3 linked regions of the Homo sapiens genome follow. The protein of the gene in region 1 purifies or fractionates together with the protein of each later gene. This does not show direct contact. Each region holds a gene or a part of one and is shown in the gene's direction. Other genes may lie near its edges. The genes, in order: NXPH3, LMF1 and PALD1.

What was found.
Region 2: the proteins of NXPH3 (region 1) and LMF1 purify together in Homo sapiens (affinity purification with mass spectrometry; 2 studies listed by BioGRID and IntAct, with this or other methods). This does not show direct contact.
Region 3: the proteins of NXPH3 (region 1) and PALD1 purify together in Homo sapiens (affinity purification with mass spectrometry; 2 studies listed by BioGRID and IntAct, with this or other methods). This does not show direct contact.

Annotation. Positions count from the first base shown.
Region 1 is NC_000017.11:49,571,407-49,578,870, forward strand, and holds the start of NXPH3 (neurexophilin-3 precursor), read left to right. Parts: upstream 1-4,464; 5' UTR 4,465-4,813; coding exon 4,814-4,867; intron 4,868-7,189; coding exon 7,190-7,464. UniProt on the Homo sapiens protein: May be signaling molecules that resemble neuropeptides. Ligand for alpha-neurexins.
Region 2 is NC_000016.10:967,841-974,909, reverse strand, and holds the start of LMF1 (lipase maturation factor 1), read left to right. Parts: upstream 1-3,925; 5' UTR 3,926-3,929; coding exon 3,930-4,122; intron 4,123-7,069. UniProt on the Homo sapiens protein: Involved in the maturation of specific proteins in the endoplasmic reticulum. Required for maturation and transport of active lipoprotein lipase (LPL) through the secretory pathway. Each LMF1 molecule chaperones 50 or more molecules of LPL.
Region 3 is NC_000010.11:70,474,370-70,481,832, forward strand, and holds the start of PALD1 (paladin), read left to right. Parts: upstream 1-4,397; 5' UTR 4,398-4,690; exon of another isoform or gene 4,691-4,801; intron 4,802-4,828; exon of another isoform or gene 4,829-7,463.

The DNA of each region.
Region 1 (7,464 bases):
CCAAACCCTTAGCTAGACCCGTAAAGCCCTGCATGGTCTGGCCCCTGCCACCTCTCTGGCGGTGTTGTGTCCCTCTCCCCCCACTCACTAAGCTCAGCTCCCTTCAGCTCCTCCAAAGCACCAAGTTCTTCCTAGGCTCACGGTCTCAGCAGGTGCAGCCCCTCTGTCCAGCTCTTCATCCTTTAGATCCCAGCTGAAAGGTCACATTCTTGCAGAGGCATTCCCTGACCCCTCCCAGGTAAATTAGGATCCCTCCTTAGTTTCTCTCTTGTTTGGAATTTGCTGTTCTTCTTCCCCCGTACCTCTTGCCAACACATCTCAGAGCTTATGTTTTCATGTGCTCAGTTATTTAATGTCTGTCTCTCCCATAGCCCAAATTCTCCATGCAAATAGGACTGCAGTCTCCCCTGTCCACACTGTACCTCCACACCAGCCCAGGACCGGACATAAAAGTAGACACTTGGTAAGTATTTGTGGAACAAATGAATCTTTCATCTCGTCCTCATCAGAACCCCATTCCCAGGCTTTCTTTCATCTCTGGCCTTTGCAAGAGTTGCTTCCTCTGCCTGGAAGGTTCTTTCCATTCCCTCCCACCTGGGCAGATCCACACGTCATTTAAGATTAATCTCTCTGCAATCTGTCCATCGCCCCCTCATTTGAATTAGGGTTTCCCTCCAGGCCCCCTTGGAACCCTATACATAGCACTCTATCCTAACACTTTAAAATTGCAAATTGCCTGCTAAACATGAGAGATTAACAACAATAATGATCTATCTACTCTTGCCTCTCCCCCAGACCTCTCCACTGCAGCTAGCTCAAGGGCATCACTCTCTCTGCCTTTCAAGCCATTAGGAACCCCATTTCCCATTCATTCATGAGGCACTGCTCAGGTGCCCACTGTGTCGCGTTGTTTTCCTTCCGGCAGCACTGGGGAAGCATGGAGGAAGGAAGCAGTGTAGATAGGATTCTTCCAAGGGTGAGAGGGAAGCAGGTGAAAGCATCAGAGGTGCTCAGCAAAAGCCCAGCCACCCCCATCCAGGGTGCAAATGGGTGCAGGGAAGGCTGGAGGCAGAGGGGTGGACCTAAAGTGCTCAGTTCTGCCCCCTTCACTGAGCACCTGGTGTGTGCAGGGCATGGCTGGGGAGAGGGGTGAGGAATATGGAGAGGTGCACCTGAATGGCAGACACATCACCTCTAGCACAGCTGTTAGTGTGCTTGGTACACAGAGTTTACTGTGTCTTGGATCTGTCTTCCCACGCTGGGAGTAGCTGGAGGGCCCAAGGTTGGGTACAGTTGTTGTCAAACCTCAGCCAAACCTAGTGGTCACTTTTCTGTCTCTCCCTTGCCAGGTCACTCTGCTGTGGCTCATTCCCCTCTTCCTGACACTCCCCACACCCAGATCTAGAGGCCACCTTCATCAGCATCACCTGGGTAGGGGCAGGAGCTTATATAATATGTAGTCCTCGGTTCCTGTCTACCAACTAAGGCTCCCTGGGGATGGGACCCCAGAATCTGCATGATGCACACTCCGCACTGTGTCCACTCTGCTTGGCACCTTGAGCGTGAGAACCCCACTTCTCCAGTGGCTTCGGGATCAGCCCCACCTGTCCTCCTAGCCCCTGGCTCCCTGTTCCTCCCTGGAATCCTCTGGGGGTTCTTTTCCTCTGACCACCTTACCTTAAATGCCAGGGTGCCCAGTGCTCCTCTGGCACCCTCCATACCTCTAGCACCCCAGGCTAGACTTTCTCCTGCCCTTGGGTGGCCGACAGCACCCAGACTTGACATGGCGAAAGCTGACCCTCCCACCCTCACCACAGACCCCATCCCTCTCCTCCCATCTATGGTACCCACCTCATCAACTAGCCAGCCTGTTGCTCAAGCCAGGGAACTGGGTGTCACACCTGACTCCTTCTCTCCCTTCCTGCCTCACCACAGCAACAACCAAATCCTGATCATTTTGCCTCCTAAAGATGCCTTCAGTCTCCCTGCCCCCCACCCCCAAACCACTGCATTTGTCTCCTAATGATTTCCTCTCCTCTCCCTCCCTCTAGTCCAGGGAATTCTCCAAAAGCTTTTAAAATGCAAATCTAACTATAATCACAGCCCCCTTAAAATCCTTCAAAGATTCCTCATAAACAAAGATCTCAACCCCTTGACCCTCCATCATCTGGTCCCAGCCTCCCCTCCTCCCGCTCTGTGCTCCCTGAACAGCAAACTGCTTCCAGTTCCAGCCTCCAGACCTTTAGTCATTCAGTGCCCTCTGCCAGGAATAGCCCTTGCCAGACAGGCTCTTCCTCACAACTGCAGTATCACCTCCTCCAGGAAGCCATCTCTGACCCTCTCGCCCCTGCCCCCAGCTTCCTCAGTGCATCCATATGCCTTCCTTGTTCAAGGATCTGTTATTCCACTCACCATACTGAGTTACAATTATCGATTTTCATGTCTCTGTTCCACACTTGCCGATGAGATCCTTGAGGGCAGGGAGGGTGTCCCATTCATCTCTATCTCAACCCCTGGCCTGGCGCCTGGCACGGCGGACAGGCTCGGCCAGTGGGTGATGGATAAATGCGGAGGGGAAACTTGAACAAAGTGAGAGCCAGAAATGACCAAGAGGGGAGTAAGGGCAAGCCTGGCAGGAGGAGCAGCCGGAGCAAATGTGTGGGAAGTGGAGGAGCGAGAACTTCCGTTTACTGCACTCCTACGACTGCCCACCAGCCATTGTGCCTGCGCTTTGTTTGCACATTTTGTCTCATTTGGTTCTTGCAAGAACAGATCAGGAAACGGACATCAGAGAACCAAAGTAACCTGCCCAAGGTCACACAGCCAGGTCTGGAACAGAATCTGGGACTGTCTGGCCTGAAAACCTGTGCTCTTTCTGCTGGGCCACACAGCTCTCCTAGGGACAGGACCTTCTGGAAACCAGACAAGGAGTGGGCCCAGCTACGCCCCTGCCTAGCTGAGCGCCGGAACCAGCTGCCCACACTCAGGCCAACAGCTTCTCCCTCCCAGCCAGACCAGAGGCTTAGAGGCCAAACAAAGATTTGCCTGTTCCTGCCTCCCCGGCTTTGGGGGGGTCTTTGACTAGACATGCACGCCACCACCCACCCCACCCCCCACCAACACCAAGAAAGAGCTGTTGCATCTTGGTATGGCCCAGGGTGCCTGGAAATGCAGGGGGCTCTGTGATGCTGTCTGGGTTTTGCAGAATCTGTCTCCCTCATCGCACTTGGCCCAGGCTGATATTAAGATTCATCTGCATTCCCCGCGCACCCGCCTGGCAGATGGTGGGGGAGGAGGCTGGGTGCGTGCCGGGGTTGCAGCCACGGGACCAAGCTGGGCCTTGGAGGGCCACAGAGCAGAGTGCCCACCCACCGTGCTCCTTGGGCCCAGCCCAAGCTGGGACCACTTCAAATGATGGGGTGCCTCCTCACCTTCATAGCCTCCAAGGGATGCCAGGACTTGACCTTTCATTTTTCTACAGACTAAAGGGACCCTGGAATTCCAGGAGGGAGACCTGAAGATATGGAGTGGGGGTGATGGAGGATGGGCCCCCATCTTTGGGAATCTCAGATCAGGGTCGTGTTCTTCCTCCTTGCCCTGGAGGTTTGCAGAGACCCCACTGGGACAGGAGCCACTCTCGGCCTGGTGACCCCTGTGGCATAGAGAGGGTAAGTAGTGAATAATGAAGGGACAGGCTCCAGGAAGGCCTTGCTCCCCTCACTCTCCAGCTTCTCAGGACCTGCCCCCGGCCCCAGAATCTAGCCTGGCCCCTAACAGCCTTTTCAGCCCAGGGGCCCAGCCAAATACTTCCTGTCACAGTGGCTGGACCGAGAAGGTCCAGGGATTATCTCAGCCCCTCCAAGTAAAGTAGAAGAGGGAAGGAGCAGACATCATAACAAAAGGAGTGCAGGCTAGACACCCAGAAGGACTTCCCTCAGCACAGGTTTTGGCTCTTAGAATGGGTTTTTTAAAAAAAGGATCTTTCTTAATTCCAGGACTCCTGAGTTGGGGGCAGGGCAGCCGATTCTTGCTGCCCGCTCCCGGGGAACGGGCGCCCTGCAAAAGAGGTGGAAACGGTAGGGTCCGTATCCCCTGGCCACCACCCTCTCCCTTCCTCTCCAAGAGCTACTCCGCCCCCGCGTGCCGTCCTCTCCTGGCTGGAGAGCCGGCGTCCTAGGTCCCCGGGCTGCGGGCCGGCAGGGGAGGAGTTAACTCCGGAGGTACCGGCTGGGCTCACTGTACCTGCCGCCGCCGCCGCCGCCGCCGGTGGGAGGGACGAGGAAGCGGGAGCCGCCTGGGCGCCAGGAGCGCTCTAGTCTGGCGGGGCGCAGCGCAGCGCGGGGAGCGGGCGGCCGGGGCTCCGCGCGGCTGGGGGCGTCCGCCAGGGGGCGCGCCGCGACGGGGCGGGTGGAGCAGCCTGGTTTGGGGAATTAGCACCAAGGACGGGCGCGCGCGCAGGTCCCCAGCACATCTGGGCGAGAGCGGCGCCGCTGGAGCCGAGGGGGGCGCCGAGCGCAGATCTGGAGCAGCAGAGCCACGGCGCAGCTGGGGCCCTTCGAGGCGCTCGGGGCGCACATCTGGGACCTCGAGCGGGGGCCGTGCCGCGCGCAGCTGGACCAGGGGAGGGGGGCGGCGGCTGCACAGCTGGACCGAAGGGGGCGGGGTCGGCCCTGGGCGACCCGCTGAGGGGAGGGCCGCGGGCCGCCGGGGACTGGAGCATGGGACGGCGCGCCTGAAGGAGCAGGAAGGGGAAGGAGGCCTGGGACCCCGAAAAGAGAAGGGGAGAGCGAGGGGACGAGAGCGGAGGAGGAAGATGCAACTGACTCGCTGCTGCTTCGTGTTCCTGGTGCAGGGTAGCCTCTATCTGGTGAGTGGTCCGAGGGGAGCTGCGCAGAGGGGCGGGGGCCCGGAGGATCGGGGGAGAGCGCGGGAAGCTTGCGAGCCCTGAAACTTTCTCCCTTCCCCCGACATCCCGGGGATGGCGGGGAAGACTGGAGGCTGGGGGAGAGGGCGGGTCCGAGGCCGGAGACTGGACAGATAGGGTTAATAGGGGCGGGGAGAGGGTGCTTGGCTGGCCCACCCACTCCGCAGCGGGTGGCTGGAGGTGCGACCAGCGCTCGGAAAAAGGCCTGGAGCCGGGTCGCCAGGGTTACCCTACCCCTTCCCAGAGCCTCAGGACCGCTGAAGCCGGGGGCGAGTGGGGCGCGGGTCGTGGAGCTGGTGACCTGCAGGCTTTTCCCCTGACCTCTGGGACTCAGAGAGCCTCGGGTTCTGGGTCCCCCAGAGCACAGAGCCGGTCCAGGCGGGGGGCGGCCCCCGCGTCCCTCCCCTCCCGCCTTCCCTCCCGCTCCCTCCCTCCCCGCCTGTTGTTTTCCTCTGCTCTCCCGGCTGCGCGCAGCCGGAGCCCCACAGGACTTGGGCAGGCGGCTCCCGCCCCAGGCACTCGCGGCAGCTGAGCGGAGCGCCCAGAGCCCGCTCCCCGTGCGCCGGCTCCGCGGCTTCTCGGCGACCCAGGGCGCCGGGGATCCCCTCCCCGAACCCAGCCCGTGGCTTAACTCCCCTCCGACCGAGCGCCCGCTGACCCTCCCCGCAATACTGTCGTGAAGCCTCAGCCCCACATCTGGACCTGCCCCTTTAATCAACAAGCCCCTTGCCACCGCCCCATGCCACTGTGGGAAGAGCCCTTCCCTTCTCACGGCCCCACCTTTACCCTCCAGCCACTCAGCCGTGACCCTCAGGAGCAAGTACCTACAGGTCTGCAGCCCTAGACCCAGACCCCGAGCCTCCCGTCCTAGCCGTCCCTCTACCCCACCTCTGGGGCCTGGCAGTCAGGGCCAGCCTGAACTGTGGGGCAGAGACAGACTCGGCCACAGCACACAGCTGCCGGCAACACCCAGGCCAGAACACAGGCATGAGGACCCCACAGCCCCTTGGAACCCTACTGTCCCCACCCCAGTGTCACCACCAAATCCAGATGCCCCCCGGTGCTGGTAGTAAAGACACCTAGGGCAAGTGGTTGCTTTCAAAAGCTGAGCAAACCCACAGCCAGGCTGCGCCTCAGGAAGCCCTGTCAACCCCCTGATGCCCCCCACTGCTGTCCCACTCTCCCTGTGGCACCTCCAGGAATCTCCCAGGTGTGGGTTGTCACCACAGCTGATCCAGCAGAGGGAGGATGAGCCCCTGCAGATTCCAGAGGCGGATGGCGCCTGGATAAAAACCCTTTCAAAAAGACACATCTGATCTGTGAGGCCAGGAGTGTGGAGTGTAAAGGAAGGGCTGACCCTATGTGAACTCAGCCTTGTAGTGTTGTAATCTCTGAGCCCCAGTGTCCTTATCTGTGAAATGGGAATAAGAACTCCTACCTCAGAATGCAAGTAACATCGTGGCATGTCATCATCAGTGTACCCTGGAGAGGTGTTTGGCTTTCCATTCCCATGGCCATCCTGGGTGTGGCATTCACTCCGGGTCTCCCCTAGTTCTCTTGCCAAACCTAAACTATATTCGTGCTTGAGAATTACACTGTGTTCTGCTTTCTTATTCCATTGTCTGGTGGTTCTCTTTGCATCTAAGGGTAGAAATTATCCTAGGGTAGGGACGGTGTCTTACCCAACAGACTAGGAAGTCCCAAAAGGCAGGGGCTGGCCTCTCCTGTCAAACCAGGGGCTCTCCCAGGATAAGAATGGTGCTTCCCTGTCTGACTCGGGGCTGTTTCAGAGCAGAGATTATGCCTCCCCCATCAGCCTGGGGATTTCACAGAGGCAGGGATTCTACTTCCTATCAAATTGGGGGCTCTGTCAGCACAGGGATGATGCTTCTGCAATTAGATGGGGGCTCCCCAAGATCAGAAGCTGGGCTTCCCCCATCAGACTGGGGACTCCCTAGGGGTAGGAGCCGTTGTCCCTGGTGCCACAGTTCACTGGAGAGAATTATTGTCGGTCTTTGAGACTTTGAATTTGAATAGTGGCCAAGACAGTGAGGAAAGGACAATGGGGGGGGGGGTGACCCAACTGTCAGAACCTGAGATGTACACAAGCTAGAGTGTACACTTGCCCCCCAGCTTCAGTGGGCAAGACGCAGGAGCTCCTCACCCAGGTCAGAGTGAAGTGGCAGGGACAGGGGTACTGCTGGTAGCGGGGGTGGTGGACCTCCAGGGACAGGGCTCTCACTGTACTCACAACTCCCTCCATAGGTCATCTGTGGCCAGGATGATGGTCCTCCCGGCTCAGAGGACCCTGAGCGTGATGACCACGAGGGCCAGCCCCGGCCCCGGGTGCCTCGGAAGCGGGGCCACATCTCACCTAAGTCCCGCCCCATGGCCAATTCCACTCTCCTAGGGCTGCTGGCCCCGCCTGGGGAGGCTTGGGGCATTCTTGGGCAGCCCCCCAACCGCCCGAACCACAGCCCCCCACCCTCAGCCAAGGTGAAGAAAATCTTTGGCTGGGGCGACTTCTACTCCAACATCAA
Region 2 (7,069 bases), on another chromosome or scaffold:
ACTTCAGGACATGAAAAATTGGGGTAAATGAAGGGTGCACGATTATCTTCGGGCCCACACTGGCTTCCTGCGGGTGCCAGAGACAGCTGCCACCGCATGCCAGGGACAATGGCCCCGAGGAGGCGGGAGCTGCCAGGCCGGGGTGCTGGGGGACAGCTGGACGAGGTGCCGACAGGGGCTCATTCCTCCCTGAAGCCGGCCCGCAGCTGCTGGGAGCGTGGCCAGCCACGGGCTTGTGTGTGCCTGGGTCCTGGGGGCTGTGCTGGCGCAGGCCGGGACGGCGGGGACAGGGTCCCACCTAGGGCAGGCTGGTCGGTCTCCGGGGAGGCAGCCCAGTCTTCAGCCTGCGTGCTCTTGGGGTGTCCGTCCCTTCCTCCCCATTCTCCTCCTCTTCTCAGCGTCTTCTCCCCCAGCACCGGGCAGCCCTGGGGTGGCCGAGCCTCATCTCCACTCCCCTCCCTCAGGCCTCTCCTGGGTCAGCCTGGCTTTTTCTCTTAGAGTTTTTGCTTGACAGGGCACTCTCAGGACGCCCTCCTCCTCCTCCCGCCTCGGGTTGGTGTGAGGCGCTCAGGGCAGGGCCCACGTGCCTGTGGTCACAGGACACTGAGCTGCAGGGTGAAAGGACCACACCTGGCCGATCTCCCGGCCGCTGCAGCTCACTCTGGGTTTGCAGAGAAGCCTGTTTTTAAGTGAAGTGCCTTCTTAGAGAATAAGACACACCTGTATCTAAATGTTATTTTTAAACTGCTAGATGCGCCTTAATATAGACAAAGAAGTAAGGTGAGCGTAAATGACATGATGTATTCCGACAGGTGACAGCGCCTTCCGGGCGATTCTGAAACACCAGTGCAGGGCTGTCTGTTGTCTTTTGTTTTCATTTTACTTTTTTTTTTTTTTTTTGAGACAGAGTCTCGCTCTGTCGCCCAGGCTGGAGGGCAGTGGCACGATCTCGGCTCACTGCAAGCTCCAGCCCCCGCGTTCACGTCATTCTCCTGCCTCAGCCTCCCGAGTAGCTGGGACTACAGGCGCCCGCCACCATGCCCGGCTAATTTTGTTGTTGTTGTTGTATTTTTAGTAGAGACGGGGTTTCACCGTGTTAGCCAGGATGGTCTCGATCTCCTGACCTCGTGATCCACCCGCCTCGGCCTCCCAAAGTGCTGGGATTACAGGCGTGAGCCCCGGTGCCCGGCCTCATTTTACTTTTCTAAAATTCGAGGCGAAATTCACATAGCATGAAATAAGCCATTTGCCAGTGAACGACTCGGTGTTTAGCACCTCACAGTGCTGGGCAGCCATCGCCTAGTTCCAGAAGATTCTCATCAGCCCAAAAGAAAACGTCCTACCCCCGGACCACTGGCTCCCCACTCCCCGTCCCCAGACCTGGACCACAGAGCTCCCTCCTTTCCCCGTGGCTTTGCCCACCCCGGACATTTCATGTAAATGGGCTCACGCAACTCATGACCTCCGCGTCTGTCCTGTCCCACTGAGCTTGATGTTCTGAGGTTCATCTGTGTTGTAGCACGTGTCAGAACTGGATTCCTTTTTATTTTATGTTTTATTTTAGTGAGACAGAGTCTCGCTCTGTGGCCCAGGCTGGAGTGCAGTGGCGCGATCTAGGCTCACTGCAACCTCCACCTCCCGGGTTCAAGCGATTCTCCTGTCACAGTCTCCCGAGTAGCTGGGATTACAGGTGCCCGCCACCACACCTGGCTAATTTTTTTGTATTTTTAGTAGAGGCGGGGTTTCACCATGTTGGCCAGGCTGGTCTTGAACTCCTGACCTCAGGTGATCCACCTGCCTCGGCCTCCCAAAGTGCTGGGATGACAGGCGCCCGGCTCCTGGATTCTTTTTGATGGCTGAATCATAACCCAGTGCACTTTTGATTAAATTCAGGCTGAAATGGGCACGACCAGAGCTGCTGGTCCACCTCTCCCCGGCCCAAGCCCTGCCCCCGGTGACCTGCTCTGGAGCCATTCTGGGCAGTGGATGGGACCCCTGCGGTCAGCGTCTCAAGAGAGCAGACCCTGAGGGAAACTTGAGCTCAGAGAGAACAGGAGCTCCCAGCAGACCCTTCCGCTGACTGCTCCCACCCTGGGCAAATGCAGAGCCGGAGCCCGGAGCGCTGGAAGCTGGAACAAGAGGCCCTTTTCTGCTCTGCACAATGCCCCATTGTGCCCTTCGCGGGGAGAGCAGCTCGGCCCAGCGAGGGGAAGCTGTGCACAAAGCCTCCTTGTGAGGGCAGCCCCACCTGAGGACAGCGCAGGGCCACACCTGACGCAGGGCAGTCCCTCTCGCCGTCCGTCCCCTAGCAGGCCTGGCACCCAGACAGGGCCCGCTCTGCAGGCGTGGTCCCAGGGTGTGGGGCTCCCTGTTCCCCACAGATGAGGGGAACAGTGTGGGCTGTGCCGGCCCTTCCTAAGCTGGCCCCCAGGTCACGAGGAGAGGTACGGGTCGTGGGCTCTGTGGAGGGACTTGGGTGCCGGGCGCCAGCCAGGGCCGATGCCTCCTGCGATCCCCAAGGCTCCGAGCCCTCAGGCACACACCACGCTCCCGGAGGCTGGGCCAGCATGCGGAGGATGTTTGTGTGTTCGTACCCGTTGCAACATCTTTAACAGGGTCCCATTTCACAGCTGGGCTCCTAAGGGGGGTTTCATAGAAAAGAAATGGAAACTAAAAATGAATTAAACCATAAGATGTACACGTATGCTACGGCCCCAGCAACACAGGGAAGGTGGAGGCTGAGAGGAAGCTCGGGCCACTGCTGGTCAGGCCTGGATTTGGGGGCCCGATGTCCACAGTCAGTCCCTGCCCACACAAGGCTCACACTGCAGGTGGTGAAGATATAATTAAACAGGTAATTAAACAAGCAATAAAGACGGGTCATTTGACCAACCCAGTGGCGATAATTGATACGCCAAAACACTAGGAAAGCTAGAGAGGCAAAAGAGAAGAATACATGAAAACAAAAACAAAAAACCAGGACAAATATTTCCAATATACACAAAAGAACAGGATTTTTCATACGTAAAGAGTGCTGACAAATGAATAAGGAGAAATCTGCACTTCCACCTAAGTGCCCCACAGTTTATTCACTAACCCCTAGGTCTCCAATGCCTACTCTAGCCTCACGCCCTTTCTTTCCTCTAAGGAATGCCTGTGACCCCAGCCCTTCCTAGCACCCGCTTCACATCAGCCTCCAGAACCCCGCTCCAGTCATCAGAGTGTAGAGTGCTGGCGTCCTCCTTCATGTTCTGTTTGGGGCATTGGGCAGTTAGCCCTTCCCTCCTGAGTCCTGAGTCCCCCTCTTCCCCCACAGCTTGAAGTCCAGTCCCAAGGGCAGGCAGGAGCTGGGTTGTGCAAAGGCGGAAGGGTGCTCAGGCTGGGAGAAAGGGGAGGGTCCCCCGAGCATTCCAGGCACAGCCCTGCCTACTCTGTCCCTTGCTGGCTGCGACGATCGCCCTAGCACCCTCCTCCGCAGAGAGTGAGTGTCAGCTGTGAGGCAGGGGCACGCAGTGGTAGCACCGCCAGGGCCTGTGCAGCCCACCTTCCCCAGGACCACAGCTGGGAAGGCGCCTGGCTGGGGGAGGGCACCTGGCCTCTGCAACTCGGACTGACGGAAGGCACGCGTGCCTGCCCCAGTGAGCTCGGGTCGGGCGACGCGCACCACCTCCCAGGTACCCGGCCCCGCGCCCTACCCGCAGCAGCGCCCAGCGAGAACTGCGAAGGAGGCAGGCTCCGGGCACCCGCTCCCGCGCGTGGGCGGGGCCGGCTGGAGGGGGCGGTGCCTCCGGGACTGTGAGCGGGGCCTCCCGGGGTGTGGGTGGGGCCTTCGGCCGTGGGCAGGGCCGGCCAGGGAGAGGCGGGGCCTCCGAGAATGGGCGGGGCCTCCGAGAATGGGCGGGGCCTCCGGGAGTGCGCCCTCCCCGCACATGCGCCCTGACAGCCCAACAATGGCGGCGCCCGCGGAGTCGCTGAGGAGGCGGAAGACTGGGTACTCGGATCCGGAGCCTGAGTCGCCGCCCGCGCCGGGGCGTGGCCCCGCAGGCTCTCCGGCCCATCTCCACACGGGCACCTTCTGGCTGACCCGGATCGTGCTCCTGAAGGCCCTAGCCTTCGTGTACTGTGAGTGCCGGGCGGGCCCGGGACATCCGCCAGTGTCACCTCCGCGCACCACGACCCCCGCCCTCCCTCGAGACTCCTCCGCGCGGTCTCGCGGCCGCGGCGCCCCCACGCAGCCCTCCTTCCTGCTGGGGCCCGGGCAAGGCGGGGCGGGCAGGGCAGGACAAGGCTTGCTGGCGACAGCGCACCCGGCCCTACCCCTGTCGCCGCCTCGAGCCTCCGGCCTGGGCTCCTGGGCTCCCGGTTCCACCCGCAGCCCCGAAGTTGCACGGCCGCGCCTGCCAGGACCGGCTCGGGGCTATGCGAGGCGGGGCCGGCCCGGGCCCTGGCCCAGGAGTTCCCAGGAGAGCTGGGCAGGTGGAGGGTCACCCGTCCGTGCGCAGGTCGGGGGTCTGCGTCCTGGCTGCGGGGCGGGGGGCGGCCTGGAGAGGCGAGGCGCTCCTGCTGTCCCCGACACAGCGCTGTGCTGACGGTGAAGGTTCCCACTGTAACTGGACGCCCGCACGCCACATCCCTGCCGCGTGCGGCCCCTGCCAAAATCCGAGGAGCCGGCCCGGGAGCCTCCTTCGCGTCTCCCAGGGGCTGAGGGAAGGTGACTGGCTGGTGGCCAGACTGGAGTTTCTCCTTTAGTGTTCTCGACTAGCTCAGTCTGCGTTCGGGAAGATTCCCAGCGGAGGTCTGGGGGCAGCTCCGGAACCTCATCTGCAAGTGAAGCCTGCGCCTCACTGTGGGATGTGGTTGGCCGGGTCCACTGGCGGAGACCCTTCACCCCACAGCTGTGCGGGGCCCGCGTGCGCAGCCTACAGAGCAGAGCTCTGAGAAAAGTCAGTTCACGCTCAAAACCTCTGGATCCCCTGGCCAGGGGCAGCTGGCGATTCCAACTCCCTCTCTCCCCAGTCCCTACAACCCAGAACTGGTTTGGAAGAGAACGGTTCTGTGATCACGGTGACATGTGATCACACGGATACATGTTTCATAAGCCCAACGTGTCAGGAGCTACGAACCTCAAGTGAGGCTCTCAAATGAGTATGGAAGTGAGGGGAGCCTGCCAGGCCGAGATGCAGCCAGCGGGGCGCGTGGGCAGTCACCGTCCCAGAGGGCTCCGGAGCTGCTGGCCCCGGGCGTTGCCCACGCGTTGGTTGTAGGCCGTGGGCATTGGACGTCTCCCTTTCCTTCCATCGTCTGCTTCCCTCACGTGTGGAAGGAAAGGGTCAGGTTGCAGAAGTTCTTCTTTGCACAGCCTTTGTGCCACACACGTCGCGGGAAGTTTGGTAGCCTGGTTGTGCTGGAGTGATGCTCAGTTCGACGTTTTGTGTGACATTTGTGTGATACTTTCCACCTCCTGGTGCAAAGTGATGAGACGCGCTCATCACTACAAGGTTTCCTGTGGGATTGCAGTATCGGCTTCAACTGGGTCTGTGTCTCTCTCTCTCTTTCTTTAAAGCAACTATTTTATTTTATTTATTTATTTTTTTCGAGACGGAGTCTCACTCTGTTGCCCAGGCTGGAGCGCAACGGCACCATGTCGGCCCACTGCAACCTCCGTCTCCTGGGTTCAAGCGATTCTCCTGCCTCAGCCTTCCGAGTAGCTGGGATTATAGGCACGCACCACCATGCCTGACTAATTTTTAAAAATATTTTTAGTAGAGACAGGGTTTCACCATGTTGGCCAGGCTGGTCTCGAACTTCTGACCTCAGGGCCTCCCAAAGTGCTGGGATTACAAGCGTGAGCCACTATGCCCGGCCTGCAATTATTTTAAAAAGTAGTTCTTCCCAGGTTGCTTTTCCCTCCACAGTATTAAACAGTCATTTTAAATGTTGGTGCTGTCACTTAGCAAACGATGAAGTAGAGATAAAGTGAAGCTGTGAGGCTCTAATAGGCCTTCCACAGGGGAGCCCGAGATACAGCAGGAAGTCCCAGCGGCCTTGCCTCCGGAGCACAGCTTCATAAAACCAGCTCAGACTCTTTCAAACGAGCTGAGGCTCCTTTGATCTCCGCAGGGATTCTCTGTTCAATTCAGAAGGAACTGCTTTTAAGCCACTGGGTCAAGCGGATATTTTAAGCCTGGTGCCCAGCATTGAACATTTCTCCTTGACATATGCACGTTCTTCTGTCTTGTGAGTACATTTGGGGTAGAATCAGTGTTTTTCTGCTGTATCAAGGAACCAGTTTCCCATCTTTCAGGGACATGGTTTTCTGGCTGAGCTGGCCCAGGGCAAGCAGGCAGTCATCCTGCATTTATCTCCTTCTAGAAAGTTCTGGATTTTACTGGGACTGTGCGCTACTCCCTGTTCCTCAGAATCCCAGGGTTTTTCCAAGTTGCCATAGGGGCTCTCCAAATATTTCACTTGATACTGAATTTTACAATGTTTATAGCTATTGAAACACTTGTAATTAAACACATAACCAAATGTATTCTGTGGAAACTCCCCTTGTTAAAAGACATTGAACTGAGGGAGGCTTACCCTTAGGCAGATTGTCTCAGCAGACATGTAGTAAAGATGTACAGATCAGGAGAACACAGAAACGCCTGCCCTGTCGGGGAAGCTTCGAAGCCAGACCTGGAGAGGCCGGCTGCCAGCGACAGGCCTCTGCATTCAACCTGACTTTGCATCCGTCCTGGGGCTGGCTCCTTCCCACCGCGGGCCTGGGCGTTTCCATGTGCTGCCACCGAGGTGTGTAGGTGCTAGGGGTGTGCTCACTGCACACAGACGTGCATACCGCGGGCGTCCTGGGGTGTCGGGCATGCCCTGCTGTGCTGTGGGAGCCGGAGTGTGTTAGCGGAAAGCGGCATTTTCACAGGGCTCAGAGTTGAAGACACACCTGTCTTCCTGACGTGTGGACTCGGGTCCCTAGTGTGATTACTGCGTTGAGCAGATGCTGAAGTAGCACCCTGCCCGGTGCTGACCTCCTGGTGACAACGCCACTACCCCCAGTGGACAGCGAGGA
Region 3 (7,463 bases), on another chromosome or scaffold:
GGCCAACATGGTTAAACCCTGTCTCTACTAAAAATACAAAAATTATCTGGGCGTGGTGGCGGGCGCCTGTAATTCTAACTACTCGGGAGCCTGAGGCAGGAGAATTGCTTGAATCCAGGAGGCGGAGGCAGCAGTGAGCCGAGATTGTGCCACCACCACTGCACTCCAGCCTGAGACTCTGTCCAAGGAAGGAAGGAAGGAAGCAGGATGCATCCAATGCAGTAAGGCTAAGCATTTTTTTGTGAATAACACACATTCACATATCTGTGTAGCTGGCCCTGGTGTAAAATGTATTTCTTACTTTGGGTCTTGATAAAAAAAAGGTTTGAACCTTGTGTATGAATTTGGGAGTCGGGGGACGTAATCCTTAGGCTTAGACCCAAAGAAGGATATAATCAATAAAATGAATAATCCTGCCCATAATATGATGCCGATAACTGAACATGTATCCTGCGCCAGATGGGGATGCTCAGGTCCCAGGGCCTGGCAGGGAAGGGAGGGGAAGGATTCCAGAGTGGACAGAGATCCCATGGGCAGATAGGGGAGGAGTCCAAGGCAAATTGCCTGGAGGAGGAACCTGAACTCAGCCTCCAAACACCCCTCTGCCCTGGCAGGTTCAGGGCTAGGTCATGGTGTGAGCTTGGGTGGCAACAGTAATGACAGGAACAGCAGTCATCAGTAAGTACTTGCTGAGTGCCAAGCACCTTTTATCCTCCAGACTTTCCCAGGAAGCAAGAACTGCTCTTTGCATCATTTTACAAATGAGGAGACTTGGAGCAATGTGGTAACTTGTAGCATAGGGGTCACATGGTGGTAAAGTTGCTGTGGCTAGATCCAAGCCCAGGTCTGCCCTGCTTAAAGCCCTTGTCTTTAGGATTGCACACAGAAGGGGGCTGAAAAAGTGGGAGTGCTGGATGCTGGAGATGGGGCAGTGGGCCTGGAAGGGCGGATGGCCAGGGCAGACAGGGGATCCGTCTGTGTTGGGATTCAGGCGTCACGGATGAGTTTGCCTGAGGCTCAGAGACCACTGGGCTCAGGGCGAAATCACAGGCCACAAGACTCCCACCCTGAAGGGTGCACATGATCCCTGTTCTTGGCAGTAAGGTGGTCACAAGGAGCAAGGCCAGCCCATGTCCTGATGTTGTCCACTCCTCAGGTCCAGTGTCCCTCAGCTGTGGCAGATGTCAGGGAAGAGTGGGGAGTAGAGAAGAGCAGCAAGGGCCTGTTTCCCATCTTTGATCAAGATTCATCTTTGCTGGTTTGAACCCAGCTCCTCTGCTTTCCAGCGAGTCATTTGTGCCTGTCAGGAAATCATTTTTGGCTTGAGTGTTCCCTGGAGGGAATCTGGGGTTCCCACAGCTCATGTTTTTGCCCAGGAACTGAACTTGGGAGCTCTCTCCCAAGAGCACCAGCACCTTGCTTGGGCTGATGGGGCAGTGGATGGCCACAGGCGAGTCTGTCGGGGCGTGAGTAACAGGTTACTCATATTCTTTGCAGCAGCAGCTTGTCTGGTTTTGGACGGTTGCAGGTGCTTTGTGTGTGTGCTACACGTACACACACATACACACATGCTCACTTATAAAGCCACACTCACTCCCACTAGACACTTGCACAAACATGGATCCCTGCAAATATGAGTTCACGCACGAGCAATACAAGCATGATAACATGGTGTCTTGGACGTTTGTGTGTGGGGGATGTGGGTGCTGGCAGTGCTGGTGGAGTGCTGGGTGAGTGGGGGTCAGTCCCGACCTCTCTCCTTCCTGAGATCCTGTTCTGGGACCCATGAATCTTTTCTCAGGGGATTTTGGGCTTCTGCTCTGAGCTTCCAGATTTCTCAGGAATCTTCTGCTGCAGTTTGAGAGGCTCAAATGGGCTCAACTGAGAGCTGGCTCGACTGATTCTTTCGTTCTGCCTGGGGCTGGGGAGAGAGCAGGATGCCTTCTCTTGGGTGTACCCAGGGCTGCTCTGTGGCCTTCTCTCCTTCAACATTCAGTCCTTGTTCCCCTCCCAGGCCCACGGTGGGGCAGATCTGACTGAATCTTTCTTGTGGTTGGGACTTTTCTAGCCCCATAGCCAGCAGACAGCCAGGGCTGCAGGACTCGCTATTCTGAGTAGGGACTTGGCAGGCCCTCTGGGGGGCTGGTGGTGGGCTGGTGAGGCTGGGCACTGTGGTTTGGATGCAGTCTGTGGCCTGACCCTGAGGAACCTCCAAGCCCTCAGCCCCCTACCTACCAGCTGAACCCTGAGGCTAACTGTTAGATCCAGAAGGGTTGTGACTGCAGGCTGTCCTGAGAACATCTTTGTCCTGGGCTTTTCTGCTTGGTTCAACAAGAACACCTACTGTGTGTGTGGTGAGTACAAATGAATGTATGGAGACGTGCCAGGCACTGTGCTGTGGGCCAAAAGACAGGTCAGGCACAGGTAGGACATAGCTTTTGTTCTCTGGGAGCTAGAGAGGCACACCGCCGTGGATCCCAGCATCTGCTGGGCAGGGAGGGTGAGGGGAAGCAAAGTGTGTGTATTTGTATGTGTGTATTATGTGCATATGTGTATGTGCTATGTTTCTGTATGTATATATGTGTGCATGCATCCCTATAGGTATGCATGTTTATGTATATATTTGTATACATATATGTGCATGTATGTGTATACATGTGTGCATACACATGCACATGTATGTAAATGTATATTTTGCACCTGCTCACACACATGTTGCTCCTACCTTAGTCCTGGCCTAGAAGAGGACATTATCCTGGAATGCATCCTCAGGATGGCAGGCTTCAGCTGGGGAGTCTGACAGCTGGTGGGATGGGATATGGGGCTGTGGCAAGAGGAAGAAGGAAGGAAACTGTGGCCCAGGATGGAGTCCTAAAGTGTGCCACACACGATGCCTGGACATTACTTGCCCAGCTCACTGGCTTCTCAAATACCTCTTTGAAGGAGGATGAAGCCATCTTATGGATGTAGAAGTTGGGAATCTGAGAACTTACGTCACTTTTCCCAGACCACACAGCCAGTAAATTGTGAGCCACTTTGAGCCTAGCTCTGCTGAACTCTGAAGGTCAGGTCTGTTTCCCAAGGCCACTATGGGATTTTCTCTGCTGCTGTCCTTTTCACACACCTTGGGTGGCGCAGGAGCAGGTATGGAGCTGAGGACAAGTCTTCCCTGGGCCTGTTTCCTCATTTGTTAAAATAGGGATCAGAAAAGTACCGACCTTATAACTTCGCGAGGCACTTAAGAGCTAGGTGCTAGGGACATGGTGAGACCACCACAATGAGTGATTTCTCTTGTCTTCAGTTATTCTTAGGGGTCATGGGGAATGTGTTCCCCTCTCCCAGCCCAGCGCTCTCCAGCCTGACAGAGGTGGGGCCTACACTGCCTGCATCCTGGGGCAACCCCAGCTCGCCGAAATCCAGCTCCAGTCCTGAATGGGGGTGAGGCAGGTGGTAACAGGTGAGAAAAAAGGATTTCCCGAGTGTGGAGCAGCGAGAGGGAGGAAGTGACTCACCAACCACAACAAAGCCTATCTCTCCGCGAGGAAGCACAGCGAAGAGTGAACGCACGCACGTGGGTGCGTTCACCCACGTGCTCGCGGGGGCGTGCGGGGCCGTCGGAGTGGGCCGGGCTGGCTGCCGCCTAGTGCTAGTCCGCGCGTGTGGGGTGAGGAGTGGTGGGGGGGGCAGGCCTATGGTGCGGGTCACTGCCTGGAGCCGCATGATGGGTGGGGGCGGAGGGACCCCTCTCCATCCAAAGCTCTGCTCTGCTGTTCCCCTCTCACCTCTGGGGGCCGAGGGGCGCGTTTCCTTAGGACCCCGGGGCGTGGGAGAAGCCCCTGCTTGGGGGGACCGTCTGCTGTTTAGGGGCTCCCCTTCGACACGTGGGAGGCAAAAGTGCAGAGCGCACCATCATCCAGCTCCGGCCGCACTGCACAGCGAGGCCGGCCCGGAGCCCGGATGCTGGGCTCGGTCCCGCCGAGGCTCGGCCTGGCTGTAAAGCAGAGGGGGGCGAGGGAAGCCGGGCCAGCGGGTGTCGCGGGTAGCCGGCGTCCGGGACGGGGTGTGGCGCCCAGAGCGCTGCTGCCTCTCGCAGCCAGGAGGCTGGATGTCGGGTTTGGGTGTCTTCCAGAAGGAGCCGCACTAGCGACGAGGGAAGAGGAACTGGCTTCCCGGGCAGTCTCCCCCGCCCCAAACTTTTCCTCCTCGCGGAGGGTGGGCGGGCGGAGGGAGGAAGCGCAGCCGGGGAACGTGGCGCCCGCGTTCCTCCCGCCCGGGGGCTGCGGCTGGGCTGAGTGTGTCTTTAAATCTGAGCCCCCCGCCCCTCGCGGTGGGGCCGGGACTCGCGGTCCGGGCGGGGGCGGGCGCGGTGATTGGCGGCCGGGTCGGGTCCGCCCCTCGGCGTTGGGTAGCGGGGCGCTGGGGAGCAGCGCGGCGCGCACGGGCCGGGGCGCGCAGGTCCCGTCGCCGGTGAGCACGGGCTCCCTCTCGCGTGGCCTCGCCGGGTCCGCCTGGCCTGCCCACCTCCGGAGCCACCTCTGCCCCCGCATGGGCTGGCGAAGTTGGGAGGAGCGAGCTGGAGCCAGAGCGCGCGCCGGGCGCGCCCCGTCGCTGCCTGACTCGGCGCCCGCAGTTCGGGCGCAGCACGCCGGCCGCAGGAGCACGGATGCCCCCCGGAGCCGCGGGCTGGCAGGTACCGAAGTGTCCTGCCCTGGGGCTGGCGAGGGGAGGGCAAATCTGGAATCCCCCGGGCACCCCCCAGCCCGAGGCTGCTCCAGACACCAACTCCCCATCCTTTGGAGAGGTGAGGTCCTGGGCCTTCACCCCACACCCGCTCAGGATTGGTCCCTGGGAGGCAAGAGGGACTCACAGGGAGCAGTTGCTGGGTGGTTGTGTGTGTTGGACCCTGGGCTACCCCCTCTCCCGAGTTCCCTGGGTTTGGTGTAGGCATGGCCTGGTGACAATTCCACTTTTCATTGCCAGACCTGGGAGCATGGCCAGGAGCTAGGGTTTCCCGCGAAGTTAGGGGGAGATTGGGGAGAGGGAAGCCGCTTCATGACCGAGATGGGGTCCTGGGACTCATCTCTAGGGGGCGTGAGGCCCTCAGACCCAGGACGAGTCCAGAAGTCTCAGCGGGCACAGGCTTTGATTCTTGGCCCAGTCTGGCCCTCTTCCTCTGTAGGCCCGGGTCTCCAAGGAGAGTACGTTTTTCAGTTTCAGAGGGTTTTCCTGAAGGGGCAGTAACCTGTCAGAGAGAGAGTGGCCTATGGGAGACCCGGCTCCTGAAGGTGGCCGGGATGGTTGGAGCCCTTTCTCTTGGGTTGTCAGAGATGGGAGTAAAGCTTCATGGCCCAGGGAATCTTCTGGGCATCTCTACTCTCCCAGCCAGAGGCCCAGGAACCAACTCCTTGGCTTCTGGGTAGAGTAACCTGAACCCAGTGGCCGAGCACCTCTTAAATGCCAGGAAGGGCACTGGGCCGTGCCCCTGGAATGTGTGGATGGAGGAGGATTTGGAGGATTCTGTCCTCAGGAGGCTCAGCCCCTGGGGGCAAGACAGGACATAAACACACAAAGTTCCCCGATACAGGGTTTCAATACCAGTCCTGAACTGGTAATAGTGGAAAGCCAAGAGGCTACACACCATTAATTGCTATGTGAGTAATGTAGGCTGCGAGAGTGCCAGGGCAGCAGAGATCCAGTTCCATGCAAGCAAGCAAATGTGCTGAAATGTTCCAGCTCCATGCCCGCCCTTCCTTATTACCTTGCTCCAAGGGCAGGGAGCAGCAGGGGCGCTGAGGAGGTTCTCCTGCACTCATCCCCACCCACTCCCAGGTTTGTTTGTTTCCTGCTGGTGGATTTCTGAAATAACCCATTTGGTTTCTTGGCTTGGGCTGAGCACAGGACACTCCTAGTTGCCCTGTGGCTCCTGGGGTTTGGGGTCTAGAGCCAGCCTTGTAGGAGGTTCAGAGGTAAGCAGGAGGAAGTCCTCACTTCCTTTCTGAAGAGCCTCTGTCGCGGGGGGTTGGGGTAGGTCGGGAGGCTGGCAGGCACTGGGCCAGTTTCCTATGAGTGCAGACAGACCCCAGGTGGTGCATGCACCCCCCTCCCTTTCCTGGCCAGTGTTGGGGGTGGGCACAGTAGGGCCCAGGTGGCTTGAGGTGGGTGGTTCCTGGCACAGCTCTGACCTCACTTCTGTGAGGCTCTGCTGTATCTGGGGCCCTGCCCCCTCCCTCATTGTCCCTGGCAGGTTTCTGTTTTTCTGGAGCACTTCGTGGAGGTGGCAGTGTGCTCATGCTCGTGGCCTTGGGTGCAGTTCTGGGAGTGGGAGTTGCTGAGCTCACCCGAAGCCCTTGGCTGGCACTGTGAGAACTTGTGTGAACACACTTGCCTGCCTCCAAACAGGTGGTGCACAGACCTGGGTTACCCAGGCACCTGTGGGGGATGCCCCGTGTGGGCAGAGACGTGAGTGCGTGTGTGTGCTCAGGTTTACATCTGTGTGGGCAGAGACGTAGAGGAGCTGGATACATATATACTTGAGGACAGACACAGGAGGATGGTGGGGGTGAGCAAACAACCCAGGGACACAGACATGTGCGGGGACAGACATACATGAACCCATCAGCGTGGGCCACGTATGGGCTGCAGACACGTACATAGAAATACACCATTGCTGGGATCTGAATCTCCCCACATGGGAGGCAGACATGTAAGTGGACAGACATATAGGTAGACCCAGCAGAGCACAGACGGGGATGGGAACCGACATTCCCAGACAAAAGACTCGGAGCCACAGGGAAGCCGCTCAAGTGCCTGGGCAGAATGGAGTTGGCTGTGAGCTCCTGGGGGGCACAGACACATATGCTTGCCAGAGCCAGCGGACAGCAGAGGCCAGGAACCAGACACAGGTGGGTTCTGAGAGGTAGGCCGAGGCGTGCATTGCCTGGTTATCACTGTTTCCCTGCGTGGCACAGTGCCCGGAAGTTGTCCTGTTTGGGGTGGTGATGGTACAGGTGCTCTGTGGTGGAGCTTATTTCTAGACTCTCACTTTGGGGTTTGAGGACCCCAAAAAGCTCAGTCTCCTGTGTTTTACTCAGAGTCATTTGGCCTCTCCACCTCTGCATTACAAGGCTGTGTTTGTGCCTTAAGTGCCAGCAGGTGCTCTTTGAATTTTGATTCTCATCTTCCCTGGATCTCCAGAGGCTTCCTGAAGTGAGGCTGTGTGGCCTGGGTAGGGTGCTCCAACTGTTCCTTTCCTACCAGAATAGGAGAGGAACTGTCTGGGGATTCTCCTTCTGAACCCAAGCCTGCGGGTCTTTGACAGGGATCCCCCAGGTGAGAGAGAGAGCACACATGTAGCTGCGTCTGTGATGAGAGCCACTGCCCTCTGGGGCGGGCTCCTTCTCTGCTAAGCCGTGGGCTTGCACAGGGAAGGGGTCCCCCACCTGGCTATGCTCAGGTCTCCTCTG